Regions from separate parts of the Homo sapiens genome. Here region 1 is linked to region 2. The links come from fine-mapping of genetic effects on gene expression. Tissue or cell type: whole blood. Region 2 holds a variant in brackets; the other region holds the start of a gene. All regions are shown on one strand. Distances are from middle to middle.

What was found. PIP is the estimated chance that this variant, and not a neighbour inherited with it, causes the effect.
Region 1: RHBDD1 starts here. The variant in region 2 is fine-mapped to the expression of RHBDD1 in whole blood (TOPMed, PIP above 0.99).

Annotation. Positions count from the first base shown.
Region 1 is chr2:226,834,874-226,837,373 of GRCh38, forward strand. It overlaps RHBDD1 (rhomboid domain containing 1), which reads left to right and starts at 1,181. Exons shown (of 9, transcript NM_001167608.3): 1 at 1,181-1,214. RefSeq lists enhancers at 500-794, 634-703, 1,544-1,693 and a silencer at 964-1,493.
Region 2 is chr2:227,000,063-227,002,904 of GRCh38, forward strand. It overlaps COL4A4 (collagen type IV alpha 4 chain), which reads right to left. Exons shown (of 48, transcript NM_000092.5): 48 at 2,652-2,842. Among named protein-coding and RNA genes, the nearest start is that of COL4A4, 160 kb to the right of the region's middle. The variant G/A (reference allele first, on the strand shown) is at 1,728.

The DNA of each region.
Region 1 (2,500 bases), 170 kb before region 2:
TCAAGGATTCCCCTGCCTCAGCCTCCCGAGTAGCCGGGATTACAGGCGCCCGCAACCATGCCTGGCTAATTTTTGTATTTTTAGTAGAGACAGGGTTTCGCCATGTTGGCCAGGCTGGTTTTGAATTCCTGACCTCCGGTGATCCGCCCGCCTTAGCCTCCCAAAGTGCTGGGATTACAGGCGTGGGCCACCGCGCCAGGCCTGTTGTTGTTTTTTAAATAGAGACAAGGTCTCACTATGTTGTCCAGGCTGGTCTCAAACTCCTGAGCTCAAGCGATCCTCCTGCCTCGACCTCCCAAAGTGCGGGGATTACAGGCGTGAGTTACCGCGCCCGGCTGTAAGATAGTTTTTTCATATCCTATTAAATATATATAGCATTGCAACATTTAACTTAGCCTAACTCCTACAGCTAAACATAAAACTTGCTCCCGAGTAGCAAACAATTAAAATGGTATCAAATTATGTATTAATCGAAATTCTATTAACTGAAATATGAAACACCTAAAGCCCTCAAAATGGGCAAACGTTGCGTGGTGCAGTCCCAGACCCAAGCTTCTGGGAGTGAAAGGTGCACCCGCGACCTTGCCTTGCTGGCTGGCTCTGGGACTCTGCGATAAGCCGCCCTCCGGTTGTCTGCGATAGCTCCTGAAGCAGGAGAGTGTCTTTCCCACCCTCCGCCTAACAGGCGGTATCTGACCCTTCCAGGCAGCAGCTCCCCAGCCTCCGGCTGCGCTGGGGCCCGGAAGGACGAAGCTTCCCGGCAGAGAACCTGGGCAGAGGCGTCCGTTGGGTAGGCGGCCGCGACCCGCTCGCTGCTTCTCCCCTAGTCTTCGGGTCCCTTGAACGCAGGTCGCTTGTTTGCCTTACGCGTAGTCAGCGGCCAGTGGCTATTTATGGCAGTAAGGAATATTATCCACATTTCACATGGAGCTTAGAGGACAGGGCGAGGGTCCACACTCTCCTTACTGCGCTCTGCCGCGGTCCTGCCCCGCTGTGCCCTCGCGGCCCCCTTAGAGCCACTGCCGGCGCACGCGGTCTGCAGACAGCAGAGCGCGGGCGCGCACAACTAAGCATGCGCCGCGGCCGAGCCGTCCGCTTTAAGGCCCTCCCCTCCCGCACCCGGCCCCAGGAACCCGGGGCGCCCCGGATCGGGAACGTGCGTGATGACGCACGTGCGCGCGAAGACGTGGGGACGCAGGCGGGTCGTAGAGAGCGTGAGTTTCCGCGTCTGTTTGGTCCGGCTGCTGTCGTTGGTTGTGAGCGGCATCTCTCGCCGTTTCCCCGGGCTGCGGGAGCTGGCGGCCGGGCTGGGGCTGCTGGGCGGAGGTCGGCGCCTCCCGGGGGGCTAGGGCGAGGGAGGCATGGCGGGGCTGGAGGCACAGCCTCCCCGTCCGGGGCAAGTCCGAGAGCGGGGAGGGCGTTTCCTGGGGTAACTCCACCTGGGGTCTTGTCGAAGTTGCCGCATCTCCGCCGGACCGCACGGGAACGACGTGCCCACACTCGGAGGAAGGGGTTGGCGCTGAGCGAGTTTAAAGGGTTCCTTTTGAAAGCAGGAAGTTTGAAGTGACGTTGCATCAGCAACAGAGCATGCAGTTTCAGGTGCTCTCGGGACAGCTTTCAGTTTCTCAGAACAAGTCTAAGCCTCACCGCAGTAATAACTTTTATTAGAGGACAAAAAATCCGCCAAAGTAAACCCTTTCTGTCCAACCCCTAAAAACCTTTGGATAAACGTTTACAAGAAACGGATCACAGCCTTATTTGTTTTTCTAAACTGAGCATAAACTCTTTTGAAGACTCAGCGTTACTGTCAAAATGAATGAGTGCCTGCCTAGTTATGATTCAATTATCGAGGTGTTTGGGTCTCTGCAGTACACTCAGTGACTCCCAGGCTTTTCTTTTTTCTCTTTGAAATTGCTTATTAGAAGGCTTTATCTAATTTCTCACAGTTGTGTGTCTTTTTGAGGTAGTTCTAATAAACTTTAAAGGCTTCTGGTTTGCTGCAGGCCTGCCGTCGCTGTGGAAAGCAAGTATTCTTTCAAAGAAGAATAGAAGTGCATTGGTTTCTAAATAATCCCAGGACGCTAGGATCAGCATCACTTGGGAACTTCTTGGAAATGCACATTTTGGGGTCTTATCCCAAACTTACTGAATCAGAAATATATTTTAACAAGCCTTCCAGTTGATACCAATGCACCTGGACGCTAAAGTTTGAGAATTAATGGCGTAGTGATAACACCCATTGTGGAATCACATATAATGGAATTTGAATTGAAGTAATTCCTAGATGGAAAAACTTGGACATGTTACCTCACAGGGCTGGAATATGAAGATGCAAGAAAAATGTTTAACACAAAACACATAGAAAACCCTCAAAGATGTTATTAAGTAACTTATTAGAACTGCATAAAATAAGTACATAGTTTGTGCTGGAAGGATTCTTCAGCGGGGTAGATATGAGCTGTAGCGCATGGATATTGGGACTGCTGCTTAGAGGGTATTT
Region 2 (2,842 bases):
TACTATCTCTTTACAAGATCCTCTCCCTCAACAATTTAAATCTATCTTGCATATCCTTAGTAGCAGATAATTATTAATGGAATTGAACAAGGTCTTCAGACTCTCGTTATAGAGGAGCACCAAGGCCAACCTCTCTGCTCTTCAGGGTGTGCACCCAGGGCCCACAGCACCTGGAAGCTTCTACAGATTCAGACTCCTGCTCCCCAGACCAAATGATCAGAATCTACATTTTAACAGGTCCCCTGTGGTTTATAGGCACCAAAGTACTTCTCAAATTTCAGTGCGCACAAGTGCATTTTACACCATTTATTGCATGTAAAGCAGACTGACTGCTTGGGGACCAGAAGAACATCTTACTCCTCATTATACAATTTTCCCTACTTTTATCAAACATAAAAATGATTACAGGTTGAGAATTTCATCTGTGGCTGATAAAATTATAACCACTAAGTATATAATCACTGAGGATGCAAGCTACCCCCTAGAGATAATGTATGAAGGAATTGCCTTGCTGGCAAATGGGAGAACAAAAATGACTAAGTTGGCTGGTGCTGCAGTGACTGAGCATCAAGTAAGGGCCTTCAGATCCTCCTTTCTCCAGCTCAGAGCAGTTGCCCTAAATGACTGACCTTGGGTTTCTAGGGGCTCCAGAGGTAATATGGTTTGGCTGTGTCCCCACCCAAATCTCATCTTGAATTCCCACGTGTCATGGGAGGGGACTCGGTGGGAGGTCTCATGGAATCATGGGGGAACGTCTTTCCCATGCTGTTCTTGTGATAGTGAATATGTCTCACGAGATCTGATGGTTTTGAAAAGGGGAGCTTCCCTGCACAAGCTCTCTTCTCTTGTCAGCCACCATGTGAGACGTGCCTTTCACCTTCGCCATGATTGTGAGGCCTCCCCAGGCACGTGGAATTGTAAGTCCAATAAACCTCTTTCTTTTGTAAATTGCCCAGTCTCAGGTATGAAAATTTATCAGCAGCATGAAAATGGACTAATACAGGAGACACGGCTGGTTTTCATTTCTTTTCTTTTTTCTTTTTTTTTTTTGAGACAGAGTCTCGCTCTGTTGCCCAGGCTGGAGTGCAGTGGTACGATCTTAGCTCACTGCAAACTCCACCTCCCAGGTTGATGCCATTCTCCTGCCTCAGCCTCCCAAGTAGCTGGGACTACAGGTGCCCACCACCTGGCCCAGCTAATTTTTTGTATTTTTAGTAGAGATGGGGTTTCACATGTTAGCCAGGATGGTCTTGATCTCCTGACCTCATGATCCGCCCACCTTGGACATGGCTGGTTTTCAGTTGACCCTGAGATAAAGGCCTGTGGGATTCCCCCAAAATAGCTCTGTCCTCATGGGTTCCTCACCCCCTCCCTCCAGAACAGCTTGAGACAGTCTCCAAGCTGAGCTGGATGGGCTACCTTAGAACCCGTAAAACAAGGGGCTTTGCAGTGACAGGAGCAATCCAGGACACCTCTATGTGAGACCCTCTATTTTCTAACCAATTCACGAATGGGGAAAGCCGCTGGGAGGTAATGGAGTAAAGGATAAAAGTATTATCTTTAGAACAGACAGACGAGGGTTTGGATTCTACTAGATGGTGACTGTATGACCTTAAAGTAGTTATTCTCTCTAAAGCTCAGTTTCCTTGTCTGCAAAATAGGACAGCTGTAGGGTTGAGAGGAAGCATATATAGCAGAGCCAATACTGCTGCTGTGACATAGTAGAC[G/A]GTCAGGGAATGTTTGTTAGTTGAGTACCCTTATTTCTCTATCAGGTAAAAGGTTGGCCCAAATACCAATGAAGTTCCTTCCTACTTAAAAGTAAGTCCAAGGCTGGGTGCAGTGGCTCATGCCTGTAATCCCAATGCTTTGGAAGGCTGAGGCAGGAGGATGATTTGAAGCCAAGAGTTTAAGACGAGCCTGGGCAGCAGAGCAGGACCCTGCTTCTATAAAAATTAAAAATTAACCAGGCACAGTAGCACATGCTTGTAGCCCACCTACTGGGGAGGGTGAGGCAGGAGGATCATTCGAGCCTGCGAGTTCAAGGCTCCAGTGAGCCATGATTGTACCACTGAACTCCAGCCTGGGCAACAGGCAAGACCCTGTCTCAAAAAAAAAAAAAAAAAAAAAAAGGCCACAAAGCAGTTATTGAATATCTGCACTCCACCTACCCCCATGTTGTTTGGCTATAAAGAGAAATGTAATCAATACCTAACTAACTCCTGACTTCAAGTCACAGTGGTTAAAAGTAACAATATCTTTGGTTTCATAAATCTCTTTGTAGTTAACTTTCACACCTTGAATCCTCCCAACAATGCTGTGAAGCAAATGGTCTTATTCTCACTCAACTAATGAGACAGCTGAGGCCAAGAGGGTGTAAGCCCCATGCCCACTGACCACTGCCCAAGCAGCTCCCGTGGGGTTGATACAGACCTTCCCCCTGAGGCCTGCTTTCATTTCTCTTCTGCGCGCCATCACTGTGCATAGAACAGTGTTTCCAAGAGCCTCTGAATCTCATCCTTTCCAGCCTACACTCTTCCCTTCTGCAGTTCACACTTCCACAAGTGTGAGCCACATTACAATGTAAGCTAGAAGAAAAAAGTAAACCCGCATTGGCTTGAAAGAAAATAAATGCACCAGATAAAACACAGTTGTTTTTGGAAGTCATCACAGAATTTTATATATAATGAACCATATTATAAATCGTAATACAACAAATATTTAAGTGCCAATGGCAGACCAGGCATCTTGCAAAAGTTACATGCTGAAAGTCTTTAACTTTACAACCAGAGGTTAGAGAAAGGGATGCAATTTATTAGACACATTTCACATTTTTCCCATGAAT